Homo sapiens: one gene and its partners. The protein of the gene in region 1 purifies or fractionates together with the protein of each later gene. This does not show direct contact. Each region holds a gene or a part of one and is shown on either strand. Other genes may lie near its edges.

Region 1 (3,513 bases):
AGCCGAGATCATGCCACTGCACTCCAGCCTGAGCAACAGAGCGAGACTCCGTCTCAAAAAAAAAAAAAAAAAGAACCACTGCTTCCTACAAAGGTCCTAACAATCTTAAGCCAGAAAAAGGATGGACACCTCTCAACAGTAACCACAACTATGACCATTCAAAAATACTCAACTTCATAAACATAATGGCTGGGCAGAAAATTGAACTCTGTGAAATCCAAAGTATCATTGAATTCTGGTCTCCTTTCTTTGAGATGTCAAATACAAATCAGGAAGTTTATACTCTTTTTTTTTTTTTGAGACAGGGTCTCACTCTGTCACCCAGGCTGGAGTGCAGTGGCGCGATCTCAGCTCACTGCAAGCTCCACCTCCCGGGTTCACGCCATTCTCCTGCCTCAGCCTCCCAAGTAGCTGGGACTACAGGTGCCCGCCACCACGCCCAGCTAATTTTTTTGTATTTTTAGTAGAGACGGGGTTTCACTGTGTTAGCTGGGATGGTCTCGATCTCCTGACCTCATGGTCTGCCCGCCTCAGCCTCCCAAAGTGCTGTGATTACAGGCGTGAGCCACTGCACCCAGCCATATACTCTAAAATCTCAAGTCAGCTGAAGTCTTTCAAACTTGAAATAAATGTACATGAGACAGCTACATTTAAGACCATATTAGAATAGTCAAAACTGTAAAAAAAAATGCATTTAGTACTTAGATTTCTAACTTCAACATTTTACCATTTCTCTCTTGAATTATTCGAATGGCTTGCAGCTGCATTTCAATGTTTTTCTGGACCATCATTGCTTTAAAGATAGTAAAATCTTCTGCTGCCAACACAGGTTGCAAAATGGCCTGTGGAAAGAAGTCTCAAGTGAAATGAAGATTCAAGTTTTAAAACTATTACCCATACATTCGAACCATTTCTACTGCAAAACAGTAGATTAATTCAAGAATGCTACATTGTTATTTATGATTAGATGTCCCAAAAGGACAATTTTAAAATTTATCTTAATAGCCTTTAAAACAGGGTTCTCAGCCGGGCACGGTGGCTCACACCTGTAAACCCAATACTTTGGGCGGCTGAGGCAGGCAGAACACTTGAGGTCAGGAGTTCAAGATTAGCCTAGCCAACATGGTGAAACCCCATCTCTACTAAAAAAATAAAAAAATTAGCCAGGTGCGGTGGTGCATACCTGTAGTCCCAGCTACTCAGGAGGCTGAGACCGGAGAATCATTTGAACCAGGAGACAGAGGTTGCAGTGAGCCAAGATCGCACCTCTGCACTCCAGCCTGGGTGACAGAGCAAGACTCCGTCTCAAAAAAAAAAAAATTTTTCAAAAGGATCAGTATTGTGATATGCAAATTATATCTCAATAAAGTTGTTTAAAAAAAAAGAAAGCTGGAGTAGCTTAATTTAGTTTCAGATAAAGTAGACCTCAGAACAAGAAAGATGATCAGCAATAAAGAGGGGCATTTGTTTATAATTCTATAAAATATAATACTTTATGATTATTCTATGATTACATATTTTATATATAATTATATAATTCCTTATAATTCTATAAAACAAAAATTGTGGCCAGGCGCAGTGGCTTATGCCTGTAATCCCAGCACTTTGGGAGGCTGAGGTGGGCAGATTACCTGAGGTCAGCAGTTTGAGACCAGCCTGGCCAACATGGCGGAAGGTGTGTACCACATCACCCTGCTAATTTTTTTGTATTTTATAGAGTTGGAGTTTCACCATGTTGCCCAGGCTTGTCTCAAACTCCTGAGCTCAAGCAATCTGCCCACCTTGGCCTCCCAAAGTGCTGGAATTATAGGCATGAGCCACCATGCCTGGCCCACATGTGTTTTTTAGAGTGTGTTGTTTAATCTCCAAGTATTTTGTTTTTTTCCAATTATCTTTTGTTATTTATTTCCAGTTTAATTATGTTGTGGTCTGAGAGCAGACACTGTATGATCTCTCTTCTTTTAAATTTGTTAAGGTATGTTTTATGGCCCATAATGTAGTCTGTCTTGACGAACATTCTGTGTGATCTTGAGAAGAATGTGTATTTTTGATTATTGGATGAAGTGGTGTATGTCAAATAAATTCAGTTGACTGAAGGTGCTGTTGTTTGTTTATTTATTTATTTATTTATTTATTTTGAAATGCAGTCTTGTTCTGTCACCCAGGCTGGAGTGCAGTGGCGCGATCTCAGCTCACCGCAACCTCCACCTCCCAGGTTCAAGCGATTCTCTTGCCTCAGCCTCCTGAGTAGCTGGGATTACAGGTGCCCACTACCACACCCGGCTAATTTTTGTATTTTTAGTAGAGACGGGTTTCACCACGTTGGCCAGGCTGGTCTCGAACTCCTGACCTCAAGTGATCCACCCACCTCGGCCTCCCAAAGTTCTGGGATTACAGGCATGAGCCACCGTGCCTGGCCTGAAGGTGCTGTTTAGTTCAACTATGTCTTTACTGATTTTCTAACTACTGGATCTGTCCAATACTGACAGAGGGTGTTGAAGTCTCCAACTATAATCATGTATTCATCCATTTCTCCTTGCAGTTCCGTTTCTGCCTCACACATTTTGTTGCTTTGTTATTAGGTACATACATATTAAAGATTGTTATGTCTTCTTGGAAATTGCCAGATTTTTTCACATTAATGTGGGCATACCAATAACATTTAAATTATTTTATTATTATTATTATTTTAGAGACAGGGTCTCACTCTGCAGCCCAGGCTGGAATACAGTGGTACAGTCATAGCTCACTGCAGCCTCAAATTCTTGGGCTCAAGCAATCCTCCCACTTCAGCTTCCCAAGTAGCTAGGACTACAGCAGCGTGTCACCATGCCCAGCTAATTCTTGTATTTTTATTTTTTGTAGAGATGGGGTCTTGCATTGTGGCCTAGGCTGGTATTGAGACCCTGGCCTAAAGTAATCCTCCTGCCTCAGCCTCCCAAAGCATTGGGATTACAGGTATGAGCTATCACACCCAGCCAAAATGTAGTGGCTCACACCTGTAACCCCAGAGCTTTGGGAGGGTGAGGCAGGAGGATTGCTTGATGCCAGGACCTCAAGACCAGCCTGGACAACACAGCATGACCCCCTCTCTACAAAACAACTGAAAAATTAGCCAGGCATAATGGTGCACACCTATAGTCCTAGCTACTCAGGAGGCTGAGGCAGGAGATTCACTTGAACCCAGGAGTTAGAGGTTGCATAGAACTATGACTGAGCGACTGCAGTCCAGCCAGGGTGGCAGAGAAAGACTCTGTCTCAAAAACAAAAACAAACAAACAAAAAAGGTTTTCTATTCCTAGAATTAAAGGTGATCATCAAATGAAAAGTTGTGCAAAAGAGGAAGTGCTGGATTAAAAAGTAGTCAAGGCAACCTCTTCTAGGCCATCATAACAAGACAATTTAAATTAATAAACATTTATTGAGAACTATGTACTAGCAACTAAGTTTTCATCTCTGTTCTACCAGCAGGGAATGCAAATATACTAAACACAGCTCAAAGGACTTACAATT
Region 2 (3,513 bases), on another chromosome or scaffold:
ATTTATAGAGACAGAAAGTTAGTGGTTCTCTGGGCTGGGGGTAATGGGGATTAACTGTAAATGAACAAGAGAGATCTTACGGTAGGATGAAAATATTCTAAAACTTATTTATGGTAATGACTGTACTACTCGAGAAAGTTACTAAACATCTGTTTTTTCTTTCTTTCTTCCTTTCTTTCCTCCCCCCTTCCTTCTCTTCCTCCCCTTCCCTCCCTCCCTTCTCTCTCCCTCCCTCCCTCTTTCTCTTCTGTTCTCGTCTCTTCTCTTTTTTCTTTTTTTGAGACAGGGTCTCACTGTCACCATCTCAGCTCACTGCAACCTCTGCCTCCCGGACTCAAGCAATTCTCCTGCCTCACTTTCTTGAGTAGCTGGGACTACAGGCGTGCACCACCATGCCCGGCTAATTTTTGTATTTTGAGTACAGACAGGGTTTCATCATGTTGGCCAGGCTGGTCTCGAACTCCTGACCTCAAATGACCCGCCCACCTCGGCCTCCCAAAGTGCTGGATAGTATGCCAAAGGTCTTATAATTTAAAGAATTAAGGCTACATATGTATCTTAATGGCTCCAAAAGGTTTCCTAACACATTTCTGAAAATCAAGTATCAAATATCCTTTTAAAAAAATATGATACATGAGATGGCTCAAAAATAAAAATGAATTTATAAGGAATTCTCCATAAATAACCAAAGACATTAAAACAAAAACAGAAACATCAAGACATAACAATCCTAAATATAAATGCCTGCCCTAATAACAGAACTTCTAATAAAATGAAGTAACAACTTGCAGAACTACAAAGTGAAATATTCAATTGTAATTGGTAATTTTAATAACCAATCTCAATAACTAAACTCAACTGATAGAATAAATACACAGAAAATCTGTAAGACTACAGAAGACTAGAAAAATACTGTCAACTCATTTGACCTGACGTTTATAGAACACACTCACCTCAGCCTCCTGAGTAGCTGGCATTACAGGCACATGCCATCACATCCAACTAATTTTTATATTTTTTGTGGAGACAGAGTTTTGCCATGTTACCCAGGCTGGTCTCAAACTCTTGGGCTTAATACACATTCGTGTCAAGGGCACATGAAACATTTACCAAGGCCAGGTGTGGTGGCTCATGAATAATTCTAGCACTTTGGGAGGCCGACGTGAGTGGATCACTTGAGGTCAGGAGTTTGAGACCAGCCTGGCCAACATGGTGAAACCCCATCTCTACTAAAAATATAAAAAAATTAGCTGGGTGTGGTGGCACACGCCTGTAGTCCCAGCTACTCGGGAGGCTGAGGCATGAGAATCGCTTGAACCAGGGAGGTGGAGGTTGCAGTGAGCCGAGACTGCATCACTGCACTCCAGCCTGGGCGACAGAGTAAGACACTACTTTGTCTTAAAAAAAAAAAAAGAAACATTTACCAAGACAGAACATATTCAGAATCATTAAACAAACCTAAATAAAGAATTAAAATCATACAAAGTATATTCTTTCACCAAAATGAAACTAAATTAGAAATAAATAATGGAAAGCTAGCTGGAAAATCTCTAAACATTTAGAAATCATCAACACATTTGTAAATAAGTTCATGAGTTAAAAAAAAAAAACCCACAAAGGAAATAAGAAAATATTTCGAAATGAAAACACATAAAAAGTCATCAGATAGAAATAAAGCAGTCCTCAGAGGAAAATTTACAGCATTAAACATTTAGGAAAAAAATATTGATGAGCTAAACCAGGGATCAAACTATGGCCCACAGCCCATTTTTGTAAATAATTTTTTATTGCAATTTAACAATGTCTCATCATTGACTTATTGTCTATGGATGTTTCATGCTATAAGGGCAGAGTTGAGTAGCTGTGGGAGAGGCTATTTGGTCCACTAAGGCTAAAATATTAATTGGCCTTTTACAGAAAAAGTTTGCTGACCCCTAACCTAAGCTTCCATTGTAAGAAATTAGAAAAAAAAAAAAAAAAAAAAAAAAAAGCAAATTATTTACAATGTAAGGAGAAAAAAAGAGATTTTATAAAAGAGCAAAATTCAATGAGAAAGAAAACAAACATAGATTAAATCAGTGAAGCCAAAATCTGGTTTTTTGTGTAAAATTAATAAACTTTTAGTCACACTGATGAGAAAAAAGATATTACAAATATAAGGAATAAGTATGGGGATATCACTATAGATCCTACACAGATAAAAAAATAAGGTAATATTAGGAACTATATGACAATAAATTTGACACATTAGCTGAAATGAACCAATTCCTTGAAAGACAAACTACCAAAGCTCACTGAAGAAACAGAAAACCTTAACAGCCCTATATATTAAACATACGTAATTTGTAATTCAAAACCTTCCCCTAAAGAAAAGAACAGAGCAATATCCCTCATGTATATAGAAACTATAAAATTCATTACAAAATTTTAGCAAATAAAATTCAGAAGCATCTTTTTTTTTTTTTTTTTTTTTTTTGAGACAGTCTGGCTCTGTCACCCAGGCTAGAGTGCAGTGGTTCAACGGCGGCTCACTGCAACCTCCACCTCCTGGGTTCAAGTGATTCTCATGCCTCAGCCTCCCGAGTAGCTGAGACTACAGGTGCACGCCACCACGCCAGGTGATTTTTGTATTTTTAGTAGAGATGCCTGGCTGATTTTTGTATTTTTAGTAGAGATGGGGTTTCACCATGTTGGCCAGGCTGGTCTTGAACTCCTGACCTCAAGTGACACACCCGCCTTGGCCTTCCAACATGCTGGGATTATAGGCGTGAGCCACCACACCGGCCCAGAAGCATCTCTTTATCTGCCCATACATTCAATCTGTGGTGATATATTGATTTAAAGTATATATAGGAAAAATCTGGGCCGGGCATGGTGGCTCAAGCCTGTAATTCCAGCACTTTGGGAGGCCGAGGTGGGCGGATCACCTGAGATCAGGAGTTCAAGACCAGCCTGACCAACATGGTGAAACCCCATCTCTATTAAAAATACAAAAAAATCAGTTGGGTGTGGTGGTGTGCACCTGTAATCCCAGCTACTTGGGAGGCTGAGGCATGAGAATCGCTTGAGCCCAGGAGGCAGAGGTTGCAGTGAGCCGAGATCATGCCACTGCACTCCAACTTAGGTGACAGAGTGAGTCCATCTCAAAAAAAAAAAAAAAATTCTGGCCTCACACAGATACAGTTTGAAAAAGAGAAGAAATATTTTTACAGATTTTTCAAATAATTCAATTCTTTCATACTGTTTCAAAACTCGACAACTGGTAATTTTAAAAAGGCCAGTTGCAATGTGGAAAATTTAAGAATGTCAATATTTTTTCAAATAACTTATATGGAAATCCACTGGTCTAATGTGCATCCTGAATGGATCATTTATCCATGCATGATTCTGTAATATCATGCATTAGTCATTTGAAAAATACTGGTTCATTGAGTTATGCAGATCTTCCAGATGTTGACATACTATACAATATTTTAAAAAATCACGTTCAATAATATAAGCACCAAGTTCACC
Region 3 (3,513 bases), on another chromosome or scaffold:
CATTTATTAACAAAAGGTTTAAATACATTTTAAATGCTAGATGTACCTCTTCAGGATTTCCTCTGGCTTGTATTCTTTCTTGTAGAGATGGCGTATCAACTGTTCCTAAATCAAAGGGGGATATTCAGCTTGGTTACTCACTTTCACTGAAAAAGAAATCGATAACTAAACTTCCTTTCCATATGACAATCAGTGAGATTCTTCTCCTTGACTTAAAATGACAACTTTACAGCTGCCTGCCTGAGGCCTCTTATTTAATAGGCTTATAATTTCTTCAATAACATTTCTATGATTTTAAAAACACAGACTATGATTCTTCGTGACACTATGTAGGGACTCTGGATGAATCACCCAGCATTCTCAAGGACATATATTTTAGTCACATTGCATTTATATGATGCTTTATGGATTTTAAATACATTTATGCATATGATCTCAGCTAATCCTCACAATAACCCTGAGATGTAGATAAAATCGTACAAGCACTTTGCCAGCTTAAGGAGCCAGTTTGCCTCAATGATCTCAAAACCATTCTTTGCTGTCAAGTTCACTGTGGCATCTTTGGGGACAATCCCATGGCTACCATAGTCCTTGGTAATTCAGGTGGCGCTAAATTTTTCTTATCACCTTGCCTATTTTCATTGTTTCAAATGCCTACTTTTAACCACAGTTTCAAGTTTTTAATCAAAAATATAATTTAATCTAATTTAAAGTTATTTTACTTTAAAAAAGAAAAATAAGAACAACGCTAACATTTTAAAATTCCACTTAGTTTATGGTCTCCTAGAGCACGTTACCCAGACTTTTTTGTTAACGGACATAAACTGTTCATTCTCTTTAGAGGGCCCTTTTTCAGACTAAAGAGTACTCTGGCAAATAATGTGATCTTTCTGAGGTTGTAACAAATGGTTTTACAGTCATACTTCACCCTTAGATCATGTTCCTGAGAGTGCCATAGATTTGATCTTTATTCAGAAAACATTTCTTAATTTTAGCATCATTTGCTATTTTTTTCTGATGAAGCTGGAAATCTTCAAAATCAGAAAGCCTGACTCCATTTTGGAACCCCCTCTTTAGGTTGGTTATCTGTCTCTTGTCACATTTTACTATAAGCAGCCAGCACTTTCAAGACTCTGGGTAGAAATCACCTTAATTAGATCACCCAGTTCATTAGGAACATCTTCTACCTTCACACTACAGGCAACAGTGTTGATGTACTTTCTGAAACTGTATGACAAAGACACTCTTTTTTCTAATTTTCAATAATATTTTCCTCACTTTCCTCAATAGCCTCCTTAAAGTCCACAGTTTTACCAACAGTGTGCACCTCAAGCTTTCACTAACACTCCTTCAGAATCTTACAGCTTTAATAGCTTTCTCCCTCTGAGGTAAATGAACATCATATCTTACATATGACTGGTACTAATGGCTATTAAATAAGAACTGTAGAGCAAGCCCATGCCTTTAGAGTATTCCAATGTCACTGGGTTCAGCTGTGTCCATGGCACAGACATACTATGCCAGGGTCTACACAAGTCTGGCTGGAGATTTGTGACTATACAACCATCAGCAGCATCTCAGACATACTCAGTCCTCCTCAAGTTTTCTTCTGTGATTGGTTCACTGAGTCACAGCTAGTTCCTTGTTCCAAAGAGTTTGATAACATATTTTCCAATCTCCTGATAAGTCCAGTCGCTGAAACAACCACATTTTCCAAATCATTTTACCACTTATTCCACTGGGTAAATGGCACCAAGAATAGCTAGACTCAAGTATCGCCAGGATGTACATTAAAACCCAATGAAATGACCTCTCATGCATTCTTCTTTTTCTTAGCGTTACCTACGTTTACATTTCTGTTCCAAGAAAAATAAAACAGAACATCTCAATCGCTGAAATTCTGTAGCTTGGGGGATGTTTAGTTTCCCCTCTTTAAGTCAGTGGGTTTCAACTGAAGATTCAATCAGAATCTCTTGTGGGTCTTTCTAAACCACACAATTCTCTCCATGAACTCCTTCCCTAAATTCTGGCATGCCCTTCAGGTTTGAAAGGTCCCCAGGTCATATTGAAATGTTTCCCTTTCACACACCACCCCCCATTATCAATTGTGCACTACCAAGGGAAACCTTGATCCTGGATATGCAATCATTTCTTTTTAAAGAATATTATAATCCTTATTAGATACCTTAAGTTCCTTTTAGATTGGTAGAACCAGGTAAAAGTACATATCAATTTAATAAACACATCTACGGTTATTGTGAAAATGAGACACACCCCTATAGTTATTAAGAAAAGGAAAGTTCTGCTTTTCTTCTTTGCTTTGTATGAGGGATCGGCACACCTTTCTTGGTAAAGAGGCAGACAAAAAATATTTATGGCTTTGAGAGTCATTTTATCTGTTGCAACTATTATACTAAACTCTGCCTTTGTAGCATGAAAACAGCCATAGGCAATAACATAAGCAAATTGGGTGTGGAAGTGTTTCAGTAAAACTTTGCTTACAAAACAGGTGTGCCTTACTCACCTGGGCACACACAGTTGCACCTGATGCCCTGCTGGATGAAATCTGCAGCCACAGATTTTGTGAGGCCAATCACGGCTGCCTTGGTTGTGCTGTACACACATCTGTTCACAACTCCTGAGGGTGGAGGAAAGGTTCAACAATTGAAGGAATAAAAAATGTATTTTCCTTCAGAAAGGTAACACAAATAAGTTTTCCCAGTAGCCATTTTCATGCTTTCTCCCACATTCCTCCCCTTTTAAAAAGATTGATATCAGATTTTTTTCCTTCAATAGAGTCAGTTTCTGGATCTAGGGAAATAATATCAGTATAGGCACAACTTAATTGAGACTTAATTGAAATGCTGAACTTACTTAACATTGGTAGTCTTAGTTTCTCATCATCAGTTGCCATAACTCTTAGGCAGATTCCAAAAGAAAATGAAGATTAATAACAAAACAAAACAATAAAACAGGAGGCCTAGGCACTTCTTTACATTCCTCTCTTGTGTATGTTGAATATGTGTATCCTTGCAAAGAGAAGAAATGGTATCTCAGCAGTAACTATTTCATTTTAAACTCACAGATCCAACTATGCCAGATTGTGACATAATCCACATTTTGTACTGCTGTCCTTGTCCTTCAACTTGACTTCTTGCTGATGGCTCAGATCAACTGTCTTTGTGAAGCATTCCACAAACTCACAGGCAGTTATTTCCCTGTATTTTGACAGCGCTTTGTACAAACCTCTGTTATATATCATCACACTGGAGAAGATGATGTTTGCTGCCTTGCTCCTAGTTTTGGACTGTGAATTCTTTTATGGCCAGAGCACATACCGGTGCTCAATACACTATTTTAAATTAATTAAATGTTAAATGGTTCTTTCTCCCAGTTTGATGTTCATTTCCATGTCCATTAGAAAGAATAAAAGGGAGGGCAAAAATACCCCACATTTTAATTTAATTTTACCACTGGCTCACATCGAGAGCAAAAGATCTGTGGTTAAGGAAC
Region 4 (3,513 bases), on another chromosome or scaffold:
TTAAATCACAGGGTAATTATTCATCATTACACAGGAAAAATCCTACCCGGGAAAAAAATCTGAGGATGAACAAAAGGGGCTGATCTCCCACTTCTTCAAGAGTGGTTTTGGTTTTGGTTTCCAGGTTTAACAGTGTGAAAAGTGCTAGATGCTTCCTTGAGTTTGGTTCTACAAGTTATTCAACATACATTTAATTAATTTTAAAACAAGATAAATCTAGTATCTAACACTGATAGTATCCCTGTAAAACAGAGAAAAAATAAAGACCCTAAGCCTAAACGAATTAAGAAAATGCAGGCTGGGCGCGGTGGCTCACACCTGTAATCCCAGCACTTTGGGAGGTGGAGGTGGACAGATCACCTGAGGTCAGAAGCTCGAGACCAGCCTGGCCAACATAGTGAAATGCCGTCTCTACTAAAAATACAAAAATTTGTGGGGCGTGGTGGCGCACATCTTTAATCCCAGCTACTCAGGAGGCTGAGGCAGGAGAATCACCTCAACCCAGGAAGTGGAGGGTGCAGTGAGTCGAGACAGTGCCACTGGACTCCAGCCTGGGCAACAGAGTGAGACTCCATCTCAAAAACAAAAAACAAAACGTTTAAACAAACAAAAAGAAAATGCAAATTAAAATGAAGTATCTTTTTTCTAACTATAAAACTGGCAAAAAGGTGAAAGACTGATAAATGTTTTCTAAAAAAATATACATATGCCAAAGGTGCTGTACAAGGATATCACTGAAGTATTGCTTCCATCAGTGGAAAAAACAAGCAATACCTGCCCAGGCAGCTGTAAAAAGAATGCTGTAGACCTAATTTTACAAACATGGAAAGTGCTCTAAGTGTTCTTTGTTAAAGGAAAAACGCAAGTCACAGAAACACATAACCTAAGTTAGGTTTAAACAAAAACAATAAAAATACACGACATAAGTGTATATGCACATACATGTATGCAAATTACTGGGGGGAGAGTAAAGAGGACTTGCAGTTTTTATTCTGTGCACTTCTGTGTCAGCTTCATAATAAGAAAGTATGCAAGTCTAGCTGGAGTAAATTTTTCAAAAAGTCAACATAGATCACCAAATAAATGTTAAGGTAACAAACAAACAAAACTCTGTAATATTTTATTTTATTTAAATTATTCCAGGCATGGTGCCTCATGCTTGTATAATCCCAGCACACTGGGAGGCTGAGGCAGGAAGACTGCTTGAGCCCAAGAGTTTGAGACCAGCCTGAGCAACATAGGGAGACTCCTCTCTACAAAAATTAAAAATCAGCCAAGTGTGGTGTGTGTGCCTGTGGTCCCAGCTACTTGGGAGCCTGAGGCCTGGGAGGTCAAAACTACAGTGAGCCCTGATCGTACCACTGCACTCCAGCCTGAATGACAGAGTGAGACCCTGTCTCAAAAATAAAAATTTTAAAAACTTAAAAATAAATAAAACTTAACTAAAGCTTCTCTTTCAAACACAAAGCTAACCACTTCATGTATGGAACTATAATGTTAAAACTAACATATCTCCAACAGAAAATATACAACACATTTCTTCAACTTTCCCCCTCCTCATCAGAGGTCACAAACAAACCTCAAATGTTAATAGAGTTATGAGACATAAAGAAATTATGCAAATCTGTACCTGTACTATTTGGTGTAGGAGTCTGATGATGTCCCAAGGTAGCCAACACAGGTCCAACTGGTAGGGAAGATGGACGCTGCTCTGACTTACACAACTGAACAGGTTCTAGGAGATTTGAACGTATAAAATAAGGTACAGAAACAGCCAAACACACATTCTATTGACTGTAATTGTCTGGGATTCAAAATCCTAAAGGCCAGTAATTTTTGAAACTTTATTTCATTAAGTCTAGTTCCATGCTACTCCTTCCTTTTGACTTCCTAGCCTCTTAAACTCAATGATGATAGGCTACAGAGTACTAAGATACCAGGCAGGATATCAAAAAACCAGCCACAGTAGGCCAATACTGCAGTATAACTATGCTGTAAAACCAACAAATGCTTCTGATGATAATGTGTTTCTGAGCCTCAAACCACAAAAAATCTGAAGTGGAGTACAGTACCTGTTCCTCTTTAGCCCCAAGAGGTAGTTTAAGCTAATTCACTTAAGAAGTAAAAACTCACAAAAGGATTTCACATACTTACTAGTACTTTTAAAAAGAGTTTTCCATTTTACAGTACAATTTCTGACTTCACTATGCCATCGAGAACATAGAAATGTTGGATATAACAAAAGGGCAAAAGGAATCAGTCAGTGTAGCTAGGTATTGGCCCTGAGCCCTTCTTTGCCAGTTTTTAAAAAATTGCATGTATTGCTTTATACAAAAAAAAAAAAAACAAAACAAAACCCAGATGTCATGTGATCAGTAGGCATCATAAATTTCCCTCTTCACTTTCTCATTATCTTAAAATCTACCATGAACATACCATTTGTATTGTTCAGAGCTACACAGAATACCCCAAAACGGAACATCCCTGGATTATCCAGAATAAGGTATAGTAATTTTTCCTCGCTAGCCATGAATTCTGAGTCATAGAATCCTGTTCTACCAGTGAATCCAAATCGTAGTAACCAAGTTTGTTTTCTATCTCACTTTGAATAACAAAACCACTTTCATCACACTTCAGTAAAGCCCCAATATCAAAACATTATCATCTTTTTTCAGTTCACTTTTGGCTGTATTATTTTTTGAGTGCTTTTATTAAAAACAAGGAAAATCAAAAATAAACAGTAATAGCTAAGACTGCTATGACAGCCACACAAATTATTTTTTTCTCATCAATGAATCTAAGAAACATTTTCCCAAATTACCTGGAGGTAACACAGTCTGGGAAGGCATTGTGCTGATCACAGGTTCCAAAGGACTAGGTTGATATATTGCATCTACGGGATTAATAGTACTCTAAAATAAAGAAACACAATATAGCTATTTTTAATTAAATGCTCTTCTCATGCTACCCTCCCAAATGCCCACATTTATGACTTCAAAATCCTGAGGGTAGCTATATAGATATGTTGATCAAAATGAAAAGAGGGAATGAAACACCTTTTCTATACAGAAGTGTAAGAGTTGCTTAAAGCATAGTAAGGAAAGACAATGAATGAATCTCTGTCACAGAAGAAGGTAAAGCTAAATGGAAAAACTGAGGAGTTATAAAATGGTGTGGGGAGATTTCAGGAAGTCAAAACCACCTCTCAATTCAATTCGGTGCTTCTCAATCTCTTAATTCACCACAAATATTGTTTCTCTGTTTTTTTCACTTTTGGTGAGTTACACCAAATGTCCAACTGATGTACCTGCACCACTAGGATCTCATCTTTCCATCCCATACTGCTGCTATCACACAGTACAGTCACTCCTCAGGTATCCAGGGGGACTGGTTCCAAGCACCCCCCGAGGATGCCAAAATCCACAGACACTCAAGTCCCTGATAAAATATCGTGTAGTATTTGCATACAACCTACACATACGCTCCCATATAAGTTAAATCATCTCTAAATTA

Evidence for each region.
Region 2: the proteins of CFAP36 (region 1) and OSBPL11 purify together in Homo sapiens (affinity purification with mass spectrometry; one large-scale study listed by BioGRID and IntAct). This does not show direct contact.
Region 3: the proteins of CFAP36 (region 1) and BDH2 purify together in Homo sapiens (affinity purification with mass spectrometry; one large-scale study listed by BioGRID and IntAct). This does not show direct contact.
Region 4: the proteins of CFAP36 (region 1) and OSBPL9 purify together in Homo sapiens (affinity purification with mass spectrometry; 2 studies listed by BioGRID and IntAct, with this or other methods). This does not show direct contact.

What each region holds. Positions count from the first base shown.
Region 1 is NC_000002.12:55,526,207-55,529,719, reverse strand, and holds part of CFAP36 (cilia- and flagella-associated protein 36), read right to left. Parts: intron 843-3,513; coding exon 728-842; intron 283-727; exon of another isoform or gene 1-282. UniProt on the Homo sapiens protein: May act as an effector for ARL3.
Region 2 is NC_000003.12:125,532,988-125,536,500, forward strand, and holds part of OSBPL11 (oxysterol-binding protein-related protein 11), read right to left. Parts: intron 1-3,513. UniProt on the Homo sapiens protein: Plays a role in regulating ADIPOQ and FABP4 levels in differentiating adipocytes and is also involved in regulation of adipocyte triglyceride storage. Weakly binds 25-hydroxycholesterol. Interacts with OSBPL9 to function as lipid transfer proteins.
Region 3 is NC_000004.12:103,082,825-103,086,337, forward strand, and holds part of BDH2 (dehydrogenase/reductase SDR family member 6), read right to left. Parts: exon of another isoform or gene 2,917-3,513; coding exon of another isoform or gene 2,875-2,916; exon of another isoform or gene 2,639-2,874; coding exon 2,525-2,638; intron 106-2,524; coding exon 47-105; intron 1-46. UniProt on the Homo sapiens protein: NAD(H)-dependent dehydrogenase/reductase with a preference for cyclic substrates. Catalyzes stereoselective conversion of 4-oxo-L-proline to cis-4-hydroxy-L-proline, likely a detoxification mechanism for ketoprolines.
Region 4 is NC_000001.11:51,760,089-51,763,601, reverse strand, and holds part of OSBPL9 (oxysterol-binding protein-related protein 9), read right to left. Parts: intron 2,913-3,513; coding exon 2,822-2,912; intron 1,736-2,821; coding exon 1,631-1,735; intron 1-1,630. UniProt on the Homo sapiens protein: Interacts with OSBPL11 to function as lipid transfer proteins.